2 linked regions of the Homo sapiens genome follow. The protein of the gene in region 1 interacts with the protein of each later gene in a pairwise test. Each region holds a gene or a part of one and is shown on either strand. Other genes may lie near its edges.

Evidence for each region. Proteins that work in one complex are often made in the same cells at the same time.
Region 2: the proteins of NCK2 (region 1) and WIPF1 interact in binary tests that used the Homo sapiens proteins (3 or more experiments, as listed by UniProt).

Annotation. Positions count from the first base shown.
Region 1 is NC_000002.12:105,852,893-105,859,914, forward strand, and holds part of NCK2 (cytoplasmic protein NCK2), read left to right. Parts: intron 1-2,155; 5' UTR 2,156-2,171; coding exon 2,172-2,397; intron 2,398-7,022. UniProt on the Homo sapiens protein: Adapter protein which associates with tyrosine-phosphorylated growth factor receptors or their cellular substrates. Maintains low levels of EIF2S1 phosphorylation by promoting its dephosphorylation by PP1.
Region 2 is NC_000002.12:174,594,783-174,602,653, reverse strand, and holds the start of WIPF1 (WAS/WASL-interacting protein family member 1), read left to right. Parts: upstream 1-4,849; 5' UTR 4,850-5,053; intron 5,054-7,871. UniProt on the Homo sapiens protein: Plays a role in the reorganization of the actin cytoskeleton. Contributes with NCK1 and GRB2 in the recruitment and activation of WASL.

The sequences.
Region 1 (7,022 bases):
CTTGAATATTGTATATATTATGCAGAGGCTTTCCTCCTTCCCAAAAGGTTTGTTATCTTTAAATTTGGAAGTTAATTCATGAAAGAAACGTGTATTATTTATAAAAAAATTTTTTTAGCATCTAGTAGAAAATATGTTATTTAAAAATGGTATTTATGCTTCCATGGAGTCAATGTGCATAGGTCCCCTGTAATCCTAAAGTCATCCCTATACAATAATGAGAACTTCTCTGTCAGGGAGGAAGGGGATTTTAGTCCTGAGTGTTTTCATCATTCATTTCTCCCTAGTTTGGAGAAATGTCTAGTTAGTTTAAGGACTGAATATTGAATTTTTCTGCTTAAAGAATATTGGTTCATCTTCTACCTAAGAAGTAGAGAGTTGCTAAAATAGTTGATTATTTATTTTATTTATTCAGCCACACTTTTGCTATTTATTACTTCCAAAATTGACTTTACTGGATATATAATACACGCATCTATTTATTGTTGTTTTGATAAACTTTTCATTTTGGAAAAATGTTATGTTCACTTTTGATGTTGCACATTTTATAGATTTTAACAAATGTATAATGACAGGTGTCCGCCATTATAGTATTGAGCAGAGTAGTTTCACAGCCTTAAAAATCCTGTGCTTCACCCTTGCATCCCTCCCTTCCCTCTTGCCCCAGGCAAGCACTTATTTTCTTACTGTCTCCATAGATTTGTCTTTTCCAGTATGTCATACCGTTTTAAAGAAAAAACTTATTCATGACATTTGTTGAAGAACAGTAAGGCAGATTTTATTCAGAGGGACTACTACAGTAGGGTTTTGCAGTCAAGAAAGAGATTGGGTTTGACTCCTAATATTAAGACAACAAGGAAGAGTGGGCATTTATAGGCAAGGAGCAAAATAAGGGAGTTGGTGGGTGGAAAATTACTAAGAGGAAACATCAGGGGTGGAGCGTGGGGATTCTGGCTAAACTGACCGAACAGGATTCTTCTGAAGGCAGGACAGGGTGATCAGCTGTCACCTGGGGGATGGTAGAGGATGAGGAACCTGATCAGATGTTGAGAGTGGAGGATTCCAGCTAGAGCACCTTAGCAGGAGAGTCTTGCAAAAATTGGGCAATGCAGAGATGGACACGGAAGTGCAAAAGTTGAGGCCTTAAAGGGAAGAAGATTCAAAGGAATTTGGCTGAAGTTTGGTTAAGGATAAACTGTCAGAATCACACAGTGTGTAGCCTTTTCAGATTGGCTTCTTTCACCTAGCAATATGCGTTTAAGGTTCCGCTATGTCTTTTCATGGCTTGATAGCTCATTTCTTTTTGGTACTGAATAATATTTCATTGTCTGGATATACCACAGTTTATGTATCTATAAACTGTGTCCTACTAAAGGACATTTTGCTTGCTTCCAAATTTGAGCAATTATGAATAAAGCTGCTACAGACGTCTCTGCACAGGTTTTTGTGTGAATGAAAGTTTTGGGGAATAATTTTATATTTATAAAAAAGTTCCCAGTATAGTACAGAACTTTCCCTTATACCCTTTACCTGGTTTCTCATTGTGTTAACATCTTATGTGAATGCAGTAACATCTTACTGGTGTGTTGTCCAAACTAAGAGATTGACAATTATTTATTGTTATTATTATTCTTAGACTTTATTTTGATTTCACCAGTATTTCCATTAATTTTCTTTTTCTGTTTCATGATCCAATCCAGGATACCACCTTGTTATTAGTACAATGTTAATTTTAATTTATAGGAGTAGTTTGGTTATGTTGACTTATTAAATATGTTTATAAGACACAGCATATCCTGAGAAAATGAGTGTCAACCTAACAGTTATCAGGAGGCAGTGTTACTTAATGAAATGGACTCATTTAATTATAATGTTATTTAGAATTTTTTTCAAGTTTGTTTTTGTTAGAGGGTCAGATTTCCCCATGTACAGCAAACAGTAACATAAGATTTGTTTTATAAGGTTGCTGTTTCTAAACCAAATACTAAAGCTTGTTGAAAGAAGGTCATTTTAAAGTTGAGCATTTCAAGACCCAGGAGAAAACTGGTTGCAGAGTTGTAATAAAAGCTGTCAGTGCCTAATTTTTCAAGTTGGTGCAAAGGATGAAGTGTCCGGGTAGTTCTCTAATGAGCATCTCCAAATGTTTTGCTGGCAGAAGGACTCCATGAAAGATGACAGAAGAAGTTATTGTGATAGCCAAGTGGGACTACACCGCCCAGCAGGACCAGGAGCTGGACATCAAGAAGAACGAGCGGCTGTGGTTGCTGGACGACTCCAAGACGTGGTGGCGGGTGAGGAACGCGGCCAACAGGACGGGCTATGTACCGTCCAACTACGTGGAGCGGAAGAACAGCCTGAAGAAGGGCTCCCTCGTGAAGAACCTGAAGGACACACTAGGTGAGTGTTTCACCCTCGAGAGAGGAAGCCTTGTGCATTTCAAGGGACACTGTTCGTCTTTCTAGTTAGTTTGCTGTTTCAAAAAAAAAAAAGTCTGTTTTAAAAGTTAATATCTTCCTAGTTGTCTTTTTTAATAATCTAAGAATTAAGAGATGAAGATGGAGAAAGAGGATGTTTTTCATTTCCTGGAGATTCTGGAGTTTGGGGTCCTGTGTATGGAGACACTTTGTGTGCTTGGGACCCCTGCACAGGTATCTCCTTGTATCAAAACGTTAGAGGAGCCTGACTTGGAATTCTCACCTCTAAGTCTACCCAGCTCTGCCAGTGTCGTGACATGAAGTTCTTTCTCTCTTATACAATCCTGTCCATTTGGCCTACGTGCCTAGAGCAGGGGACAGCCAAAGCACTTTTTCCCTCTCTGAAATGGATGCTACATCACACCACAGTCCTGGGTGCCGTTAGCTAAGAGGGCAGCTTTGTGACATCAGAGGCCGCTCCATGGTGGGGGCCTAGTTCAGCCATACTGTTGTCCCCATGTGCCTCTTTTTTTTTTTTTTTTTTTTGAGACGGAGTCTCACACTCTTGCCCAGGCTGGAGTGCAGTGGCACGATCTTGCCTCACTGCAAGCTCCACCTCCTGGGTTCACACCATTCTCCTGCCTCAGCCTCCCGAGTAGCTGGGACTACAGGCACCCACCACCACATCCGGCTAATTTTTTGTATTTTTAGTAGAGATGGGGTTTCACTGTGTTAGCCAGGATGATCTCGATCTCTTGACCTTGTGATCCGCCCACCTTGGCCTCCCAAAGTGCTGGGATTACAGGCGTGAGCCACCGTGCCCGGCTCCCCATGTGCCTCTTGTTTTCCCAGGTGTTGTCAGGTTATGGGCAGTGCCCTCCTGGAGTTACACAAAGTTAACAGTATCCAGTCTTGCCTTTACATGCACACGGAACTGACTTACAGTATTTACTGCCTCAGATTACCTGAGAAAATAATTGCGAGGACTTTTTTGAAGAATGACTCATCTGAGCTGACATTTAAAACGTTGTTACCTTCTTATGAGTATAATGTTGTCTGTATCCAAGACTGCAGGTTATCACTTAAGGGTTTGCTAGTGAAATGAGTTAATATTATCACCTGTGTCACATTTACTTGGGGTTTTAAAAAAATTTCTAACAAGAGGATTTGTTTTCTTTTGGGGAATGGAGAATGAGGAATACGTAGGAAAACTGAAAGTAAAATTATACACCAAATGTGGTGGGTGTTGCAAAATGTTCATCTTTTCTTTTCTGCCATGTTGAAAAGTCTAAACTCCCTCTGCAAAATCATCGAAAGCCTTCATGTATTAGGTAGTATTTTTGTGTATGGATTAGGTTCTTACCATGATTTGGAGAGATAAGTGAGACATGGAACTTCGTATGAATCATACCAGCTCACTGGCCATCGTAGATTCTCAGCCTGATGGAGAAATTTCATTTTTGATTAGCAATATGCTCCTTCTCCACTGAGCTGCCTCCCTTTCATCTTTTCTTCCCCCACATAAGCATGCCACTTGAAAGAAACACTGTTTTATGCTTATAACTCTTAATTAACTGTGGTTACCAAAAAAAGAGGGTAGCATGAATAGAGAAAAACTTGAAGGTTGTCCTGAGCTTTATTTTTCCAATTTCTACCTTTCACCAAAGTACCATCTTTTTAGTGATGCCAAACATTGTTACGTTGTTGACTTGTTGTGTGTCTTCTTTTTTTTTTTTTTTTTTTGTATTTACAAGATTCTAGTAAAGCATGAAGTGCTTAGAGACTTGTAGGAAGTAGAACAAGGCAAGGCGAGTTCTCTGGGTGACCTGGAAATTCCCTTGAAAACCTTGTCAGTTTTCTTCCTCAGTTTTCTAGAAGCAGAAAAGACAAAGCCACAAATTAAAACTATGAACCACATCTTCCGCCCAGCATGCTTAGTTTTTTCATGAGCTGTGATCGGTTCAGCCAATGCGTGTACTCCCAGGCTCTCAGACTGAGCCAGCCGCCCGTCCTGGAGCCGGCACTGGGCCCGCGCCCGTCCCCGACAGATGGCCATCCAGCCCTGCTGGAGCGCAGCGTCGGTTCGAGTAGGCCAATCCCATTTTTGGCGAAAACAGATTGTTAGAAAGCTCTTCCTTAAATAGAATCAGATTTTTACATTTCTTTAACTTTCTTCCTTCCTTTGGCTCTTATTCTGCCCTCTAGGCCTGTGCTGAGTAGGTCAGATCCTCTTCTGTAGAGTGTCAGCCCTCCCATAGGCTTGGTCTCAGTTCAGGCAAGCAGTTCTTGGGAAACATTCCTGTTAAGCATTAGCTATTGTAAAAATACAGAAAAAATGATGTTCTGAACCCCTTTATTGAGTATAGCAGTTGATCTTCATAGCCAAAAGGCCCTTGGGGATCAGTATCCCCGTCATGAGGGAGAAATATCCCCATGGTTAGTATATATTTTTTGTTTTGATCTCTTTATCATGCTCACCTGGAGGTTTTTGTTGGACAAAGGGATGTTGTTATCTCAGCATGAGTTTTCCCTTGCCCTGTTGAGCTGCATCCAGTGGAAGAGGAGGCACCCCCGATCAGGTCTCACCATCATGCAGTAACTTCTGTGCACTTCTGTGCAAAGCTTATAGATGTGGCGTTGCCAAGAAGGAAAGTGAGAATGCTTTCCATAGCCCCTCCTGCCTCTCATTAGTTGCATTTGTGTGTGTTTGTGTTTTGTTTTTTGTTCTTTGTTTTTTGGGGTTTTTTTTTTGTTTTTTTTTTTGCTAAAAAGATAGGAGCCAAAGTGTTCATGGCTTCCTATTACTGTTGGTGATGATAATTAAACAGGTATACCATCAGAATGACAGTATGACTTTAGGCCAATTGTGCAGCCTGCAGAAATTATCCCTGCTGTGTATTAGGCATGGAAACAGCATCAAAAGTACACCACATGTATACTGACCACGGTTTGTTTTTGTTTTTGTTTTTTGAGACAGGGCCTCACTCTGTTGCCTAGGCTGGAGTGCAGTGGCACAATCCCTGCTTACTGTAGTATTGACCTCAGGTGATCCTCCCACCTTAGCCTCCCGAGTATCTGGGACTACGGGCATGCACTACCACACCCAGCTATTTTGTATTTTTTATAGAGACAGGATTTTGCCATGTTGCCTGGGCTGATCTTTAACTCCTGGGATCAATCTAGTAACTCATGGCACCACCCACATTTGCCATTTTTACTGCTTTGGGAGTCCACCTAATTCATAAATCCATGGTAAGATTCCTTCCTGCTTTGGAATAAAATGGCACCGGCCTCCCCAGCAAAACCACAGTGTTGTGTATTGCATCTCCAACTGTAGATTACCCTAACTCTGTGTAGTTCTCTCCTGCTTTCTTGTACTCATTTGCTGTCCTGAAGTTGTTAATAAACTTAATTTTGTCACATACAGTACTTTGTTAAGAGTAGCTTGAGGAAAGACGTGAGAACCTTTGACAAAAAGCTCTCTCATGAAAGTATTTACCTGCTTTCTTTCTCTGCAATAATTTAAAATTGATAAAAGCAACCTGAGCTCTTATTTTCACATGGGCAAAACATTTGTATACTGGATCTCTTCTCATATTCAGCTTATGATCATGAATAGTCAGAACTTTGCCACAGATAACAGGGAACAATGATCAAGAACTGTTTCTGCTGGCAGAATCCAGTTGATGTTTTTGAAGGGCTCAGACTGCACAGCTCTGAGCTCAGTGGAGAGCGGTCCTGGGCTGAGGTCTGGCCTTAATACTGCAACTCCACTTAGAAAATTGTGCAGGCGAGGTGTTGTAAAAGCACTATGCTACATCTTTTGAGATGGGGAAGCTGCTCCCAGGGAGGTATTTTTCAAAGATTTTCCCTCAAGCTACTGAAGAGCAGTTTTTTGTTACTACTTTATGACACCAGCTGGAGCCTTGCAAAGCCCCAAAGGTTAATTCTCTTTTCGGTGGTTAACATAGGCTTAAGGGCTGACTCACATTACCCAAAAAGTTACGGTTCCATTTACAACCTGATCATATCCTCAGGAGGGTTTGTTCACAGGCCCACCTGCCCGTGGCTCACCCTGCCACCCTACCTACCTGGGACTTCTGCATCCAGCGTCACCTGCCCCAGGGCTCACTCCTCAGCATTCCTCCCAACAGGACCACACCTAGGCCTAGCGTGGTTAGAAACTTGCATGATCAGCCCCAGAACTCCTGCCTCTGATCCAACCCAGACCTGGGAGCACAGAGGCTACTGAGAGGGCTCCCTAATGCTAACTGTGAAACAGCCTTTGCACTGGTTTGAGCTGATGCTTTTGGATGGGGACAGGGTGGCTGGCACCCGTGGGTGAAATTGACAGGGTTCTGAGAGGCATATCCCTGCTAGGATCAACTTTGGAATTGAACTGATCAAAGTCACAAGGAGTACAGCTGTAGGATTGTTACGTAAGATCCAAAAGCAGTGAAAAGCAACACTTGGTGTTAGAATTAAGATTACAGTACTCTGGAGGGAGGGAGGCAGAGCCTCAGTGAAGGTACAGGGGCTTCTGTCTTGGTGATCTGCCCTGGGGTCTGTGGGGCAGGCTCACGGGCACACCTGCCTTGGAGGAGTTTG
Region 2 (7,871 bases), about 69 Mb from region 1:
GGATTATTCCTTTGTTTCTGCTCTTTTAAATCAAATAATTCCCATATTTTAACATTTTGAAAATAGATTCTTACAACTAATGCATATCTTTAATCTGGTAGTGTTTCTTTTTCACCCTAAAAATCTATAAGGAGTCATTCTGCAGTATAAGAAGGAATAATGTAAGTTTTAGAACTGCGGGATGCAGTATTATAAAACACCTTTCCACTACTGGGGAAATACTGCACCATAACAGGTAGTCATGGAAACACAACTTGAAAAACCAGAATTATTTAAAACTTATGTTGCCATATTTTACACATGCCACTGTTGCACTGATTCAGTCCATGTTGACTGGGGGCCACGGCAGGAGGCTGTGATTCTTCAGCACTTTTTCTACACTGGCTAGACCTACATTATTGTTTTATAATCTTCTGCCTGCTCTTGGTTTTTTATTTCTATAGATTAATATGGAGGATTCTTTATGTGATTGGTCTGCGAGCCTATTGGTTATTGTTTTACTCTGTCATTAAGCTCAGACTGATGCATATTAAATGGGAAAGAGATACGCATTTAAAATTCTCTTTAAGTCCAGAATTGTGATTGTCTTTATTCATCCAGGCTTTCAATCCACTTATCTCAGGCCTTTGGTTATAGTATAACAACCTCTCCCATCCGCATCACAGCCTTTCTCTCCACCCTCTTTCTTCTGCCTCTTCTTGTACTTACAGAAAGGAGGTAGGTGGTATCACCCGAACCTGAAATGAGGCTAAAGACATTAATGGCGCTGGACAGTGGAGTGGAGCCCAGGCTTTGGCCACTGCTCTGCTGCTGCCAGCTGTGTGACATGAGCAGGATGCCTAACTTCTCTGGACCCCTGTTTCTTCCTCTGTAAGTGGTGATGTAGACTTTGATCTCTGCAAGTCTCCTGCAGCCTTAAAGTTCTTTTCTTTTTAAAGAACGTGGCTGCTGGAAAAGCTGACACTGAGCTGAGAACTCCGCTTCACTGCGGAAGGCCAGACAGCACTGTTACATCCAGCACCTGTGGGTCATCCACTGCAGAGGTGGCTTCCAAAGCCTCTGAGGTCAGCAGTGTGGTTGTAGCTCTCCTCTACCCACCACATGATCTCTCCCCATCTCCAGCTTTTCTTGCCTTATTTTCTTTATCTTTTTATTTCCCCCCCTTCCTTTCTGATTGTTCTATTTGTTTTCAATTTTCTTAATCCATTTTTCTCTTCACATTGCCCAATGGTGTAAGCCACCTGCACTGCATAAGACTCTGCCTGCACTGCCAGGCCCACTGATGGGCCAAGGGTTTTACCTGCTGACCTTTTCTCTGGAAAATTTCCCTTTAACAGCTTCTCCCAAGAAGGCTTAAGTCTAGTCTTGGCATTTGTTATTTACCATTTCAGGGGGAACAGTCTTAAGCTTTTAAAGGAACATTATGCTGGGCAGCGTGGTGGTTCACACCTATAATCCCAGCACTTTGGGAGGCTGAGGTGGACAGATCACTTGAGGCCAGGAGTTGGAGACCAGCCTGGCCAACATGGCGAAACCCCGTCTCTACTAAAAATACAAAAAAAAAATTAGCCAGGCGTGGTGGTGCACGACTGTAGTCCCAGCTAGGGAGGCCAAGACATGAGAATCGCTTGAACCTGGGAAGTGAAGATTGCAATGAACCAAGGTCATGCCACTGCACTCCAGCCTGGGTGACAGAGTACGACTCTGTCTCAAAAAAAAAAAAAAAAAAAAAAAAAAAAAAGGAACATTATGCTGTAGTAGAATTCGTAAGAAACATTGATTTTCTTTTCCATTCAACAAACACTATTTTCAAACACCTGCATTAGATGCTGAAGCAACAGCAGTCAAACACCTGCATTAGATGCTGAAGCAACAGCAGAAACAAGATGGACAAGGTCCCTGCTCTCATAGAGCTTGAATTCTAGTGGAGAGAAACATACAAGTAAATAAACAGATAAATAAGACAGTGTCAAGCGGTGACGCATGCTATGCATAAAAGAAAACAGCAGAAATGGGTCATGAGGGAGAGCATTTTTGCTGACATTTGAAGAATAAAAAGGAACAAAAAGATGAGTGTACCAGGCGTGAGTACCAGGCTTGCAAGTAAAAGGCCTGAAGATGCAAATGAGCTTGGTGCATTTAAGGAACAGAAAGATTTGGAAGGTAAATTAGCAAGGCAGAATATTACTTGAGATGAAGGCAGAGAGTTAAGGAGGGGCCAGATCTCGTGGGTCCCTGTGGACCTAAGAGTTTGGACTTTTTAAGTGAAATGAGAAGTCATTGGAGGGTTTTAAGCAGGGGAGGAACATTATCTAATTTATGTCCTAACATGCATAGTAGACACCTGATAAATGTGTCCAAAGTTGACTGTAGGAATAGACTCAAACTACACAACTACTCCCTTGCATGTCTTGGGGACTGCAGCCTTCTAGGTGACATACTCCCTTCTAAGTGAGCTTTTCCTAAGGTAGGGGTCTCCAACCAGTCTATGGCCCCTTAGGAACCAGGCCACACAGCAGGAAGTGAGCAGCTGGTGAGCAAGTGTTCCCTCCTGAGCTCTGCCTCCTATCAGATCAGCTGCGCATTAGATTCTCAGAGGAGCAAGAATCCTAAAGTGAACTGTGCATGCGAGCTCCTTATGAGAATCTAATGCCTGATGATCTGAGTTGGAGCAGTTTCATCCTGAAACCATCCCCACCCCCTGCCCCCACTCCGTGGAAAAATTATCTTCCACAAAACCAGTCCCTGGTGCCAAAAAGGTTAGGGACCACTCCCCTAAGGGATGGAAATAGCCATGAATGGTATGTGTACTGAGAGAGAGAGAGAGAGAGAGAGATAGCTAGAGAGAGAGAGAGAGAGAGTGTGTGTGTGTGTGTTTGGGGTGTCTTACTTAGAGAACTTCAAAATAATTCTGAAAATACGTAGAGAAATTGTCATATCGCCCATGTTCTCTTTTTAGACCCAACTATAATTAGACTTCCCCAAAGATTCACTCAGGCATTTACTTAATAGTTGATCAAGTTTTCTGTTTTCCTGAGGGTTTGTATCGCGGGAAGTGGCTGATAGCTGTAGGCCTCCACCTCTGTCCAGCCCCATGCCTGCAGGTATTTATTTGTGACCTAAGTCACGGGTGGACACCAGGCCAGAGTTAGACAAGAGGCGGTCCCTGCCTTCAAGGGGCTCCAGGCAAAGCAGAGGACTCTCAGTCACTTATTCTTGGGTACTCCACTCCAGGAACTGTGCCCATGGCCTGGCATCATGAATCTGCTCATGCAATTAGACTCCTATCTCAGGGAATTTTGAGTTTAAAAGATCCTTAGACATCATCTGTCCCAGTACTCCCCAGTAGGAGCACTTCTGGTATTTTGGGTGGGACTGTCATAAGCACCATAGGAAATTTCCCATTCCTGGCCCCACCCACTGAATGCTACAGGCCCCTGCCCCCACCATTCCCACTCACTGCTCACCACCCCCAACAGCTACCTGAGTTGAAAATTACTCATCTAGCCCAGTTCCATCACTTTACAGGTAAGGCAATGTTAGACAACATACGTTCTTTTCATGCCTCTGGCCTCTGATCCTAGCAGAATCAGGACCCAACATTCAGATTTTACAATGAAGCTAGTTTCTGAAATATGCCTCTCTTTTAAATTCTTTGACTGTTACTGTTTTCTCAGAGTTATATACTATGTGTTGCATATGTAAGTCTGAACCTTTAAGATGGGTTAAGAAAAAATTATGAGCATTTTCAGATCGTTCTATACATAACTCAAGGTTTTGATAAAATGTTTTCTACATGTATTCCATTGCCATCCACCTCTTGAGTTCTTTAATAATGAGAAATCTGACTTTCTTCCTTCCACCCTCTTTATCTCTATGCTTTTGTCAAGCATCTTCTAGGAGAGTTACTGTTATCCCATTAAGTGTGGGGGACAGAAACATTTGGCATAGAAAGCTATGGATCTGCAGCTGACTTAAGCTGTATATTATTACCCTGACTTGGGCACCAAAATCACGTTTCAAAACTCATTTGCTGCCAAGTATGGTAGCTCAAGCCTGTAATCCCAGCAATCTGGGAAGCTAAGATGGAAGGATCACTTTGAAGCTAGGAGTGCAAGACCAGGCTGGGCAACAAAGCAAGATCCCATCTCTACCAAATATAAAAATAAAATAAATTAGCCAGGTGCAGTGGCATATGCCTGTAGTCTCAGCTACTCAGGAGGCTGAGGCTGGAGGATTGCTCGAACCCAGGAGGTCAGGGCCACAGGGAGCTATGATTACGCCACTGCACTCCAGCCTAAGTGACAGCAAGACTGTCTCTCTAAAAAAAAAGAAATAAATAAAACAAAACCAAAAAAAGAACCTCATTTGCCTTCATACACCTGACCTGCTCTCTTTACCTGCATTTGTAACTTTCTCCCCACACACTTGAATGCCCTGTAAATGAGAAGAAGCCCTTAGCCTAATGAAGCGATAAGGTAAGGTAGGTAAGAGCTTTTCTTTCTTGAGTGACTCTTTTCCCTATTACTCAATGGAATAGTCAGTATTTACAGTGATACTTTCAAATATAATTTTCCTAAAGGAATCTCAAGTTCCATGAACAGTTATTTTTGTGGGAATATCTAGAATAAAGTTGGACTCTTCACTGAGTGGAGGTGCTCATCTCCTCTTGTCACTGTACCAAATAGCTGTGTATTACACCTTGTGGGGAGGAGAAACATTTAATTTTTTTTAATTTAGGTTTTTTTTCTTGCTTGCTTCTTAAGCAAAACCAATCTAGTTTCTTTTTCTGCAGCAAAGGAGGAAGGAACAACAAACAACAAATTAATCAGACAGGAAGCGAATAACCACAGAAGGACGTCTGCCTCTGACTCAGTATGTCACATTTAACAAGAGGCCAGAGCTTGTCCAAAATGGCTGTCCAAAAACGACCCCACACTTGCGTTAGAAGATGATACCTTTTTCAGGGACAGTTTTCTCTCTTGGCTCCTGTCCCGCTGGCCCTCTGTCTGCCTGTGTCCCTGACCATGGCTCCCTGCAGTACCCTTTAACGGTAAGAAAAATTATATTCAAACTAAGTTTATTTCATTTATCAGCTACAGGGAAGAACTAAATGGCTTTTAATGGACCATAGTATGTCAAGATAAAGTTGTTTAATTTTTCTGTAGAGCACCATGTGAGCTATTCCTGTTGCCCAGAATGCTAGTTTCACCACTATGGTGATTGTGAATGATTCATAACTTATGCTTTGAGCCAAAATGTAAGCAAGATTTTCAATAGAATTTTTTTGACCACTGGACAAGTTTGGATCCACAGGAATTTATTTTCCCATTTAAATTGGGGGCTTATGTCGGTAAATATATCCTTTTGGTGTATGATACAGTTGTCCACACAACTGCCTTTGAATCTTTGGTGTGGCCAGCAACAATAAGTGCTTTAAAGTACAAGGAGCCATTGGAAGCTTCAAACGAAAATACCATGGAACTAAGCTGTTGCAGTTCTGTTGCTGCCAATGTGCTATTTAAGTTCAAAACTCAAACTAAACCATTTCTAAGCAGAGTCTTTTATAATACGATTTGTCTTTTAGAATAAGTCTATTCCTGTTATAACAGTGTGTGCACAATTACTATCGCAAATCAAATTCTACAGCATTAGTTATAACTTTATGTTTAATATGATTAATGTTTTGGCATAAAATATTGTGATTTTTAAAATTTCAAGCCATCTACTCAGAGGCTTATAGAGCAGAACTAAGGAAACTTTTTACATTAAAAAACTTTTTTCTAGAATATGTAGGAAGAAACAATTTGACTTATGTTCCTTTCTCCCCGTGAAGAAATATAAAATAAAGCTTTAAAAAACTCAGAAGGCACATATAACTTTAGTCACTAAGTACAAGTTTTTTGTTTTTTTTGTTTTTGTATTTTTAGTAGAGACAGGGTTTCATCATGTTGGTCAGGCTGGTCTCAAACTCCTGACCTCAAGTGATCTGCCCGCCTCGGCCTCCCAAAGTGCTGGGATTACAGGCATACAAGTTATTTTAAATAATTTAATGGCATAACTAGTATATGTAGTAGAGAATGGAGAGGTGGTAAATGAAAAGGCTACTGAAAGATTCTAACTAAGCAAAGTAAGACAGCTTGGTAGAGAGAAAGATGAAAGACTGGGGAAAGAATAGGACAGGACAGTGAGAAAGGAAGATGAGAAACTGGGAAAAGGTTTTGAGGTTGATCTGTGTGGAAATCATACTCTTACAATTCACTTGGACTACAGTGCTATGTGTTAACTTTATCAAGCTTTGTTCTTCTGTACTGGAATATCATCATGTCAAAACTCTTCCTTTTATCAGTCTAAGGTCATTAAATGACTTACCTGAAAGTCATTTTTCACTAAGTCAGGTTTTCTATTGCTCTTTGAAAAGTTTATTCATGGGCTATTTGCTCATAGCGCTTCAGCTACTCTAATATCTAACCTTTTAAGGGTTACACATACTCTGGGTGGACTGAAATATTCAGAGAACTCCCTGTGGTGAAAATTAGTTCCTGGGATCGAGCAGCAACTTCAGATCTGATCAAATTCTAAATCTGGCCTGTAGGCTGGAAGTTCCCCAGCCTACCTAAAATATGAGATGAAGTGATACTGAATTCCTGGACCCTTTAAGTGTTATGACCTTTTGAAGCCTTCTTAACATTTTATGAACACACATCATTTACTTTGGAAGTTTCTGGCTGTTTAAATTATGATATATTTCTGCTTTAAGGTTTGACTCATTTTGTCCAAATTGTTAAACATGTGCTTGTTGTTGAAGAAAGCATTTCTCCTGGACTTCCATAAATACCTCTGTCTGTCCTGAAAATTAAAACTGTAAAAAAATACTAGAATAAGGAATGCCTTAATCAGTATGCTTTTCTGAGAAATTTGAAATGCACTTTATACACATCTCCCTTCACCATTCACTTGTAATATGGAAGTTTGCATGGGTGTACACACATAGGCTGATTTAAATCAGCTCATGGTTTCTCTTTCTCGTGGTTAAATAGGGGGAAAGACTGTGATATTTACTGACCACTTATTTTGTGTTACGTTCTTCACCTTTGCTTATTTTATTTTTTGAAAATGGCTAATACTTATTAAGCACTCCTTCATTTAACTCTTGAATAACCCTACTAAGTAGGTGCTATTATTTTGAAAACCGGACTTACATAAGCTAAGTAATTTACCCAAGGCCACCTAACAACTAAATGTGGAGGAAGTTATCTGAATTGTAAGAGCTTTTTTTCACAAGTGCAGCTTGGAAGCAACATTATAAATTGTATGATTTCTGTTTTTCTTTTTCTTTTCTGTTTTTTTTTTTTTTTTTTTTGAGACAGGGTTTTGCTCTGTCATCCACACTGGAGTGCAATGGCATGATCACAGCTCACTGCACCCTCAAACTCCTGGACTCAAGCAGTCCTCCCACCTCAGCCTCCCAAGTAGCTGGAACTACAGATGTGTGCCACCATGCCCAGTTAATTATATATATATATATATATATATATATATATTTTTTTTTTTTTTTTTTTTTTGTAGAGATGAGGGTCCCACTATGTTTGCCCAGGATGGTCTCAAACTCTTGGGCTCAAGCTATCTTCCCACCCTGGCCTCCCAGAGTGCTGGGATTATAGTCATGAGCTACGACACCCAGCCAGTATGATTTCTTGAGGTGCTTTTCCGGCCTTGGGAATCTGAGATTACAAATGTTTTGCTTTAAATGTCACAGCAACAGTAAATATCTTTAAAACTAACAATCTCAAGTAAGATATTTTCCTTTTTAAGTCTTTTCACTTCTTCAGAGGTAAACTTGGTGACACTTCTGCTTATATCATAAAGCT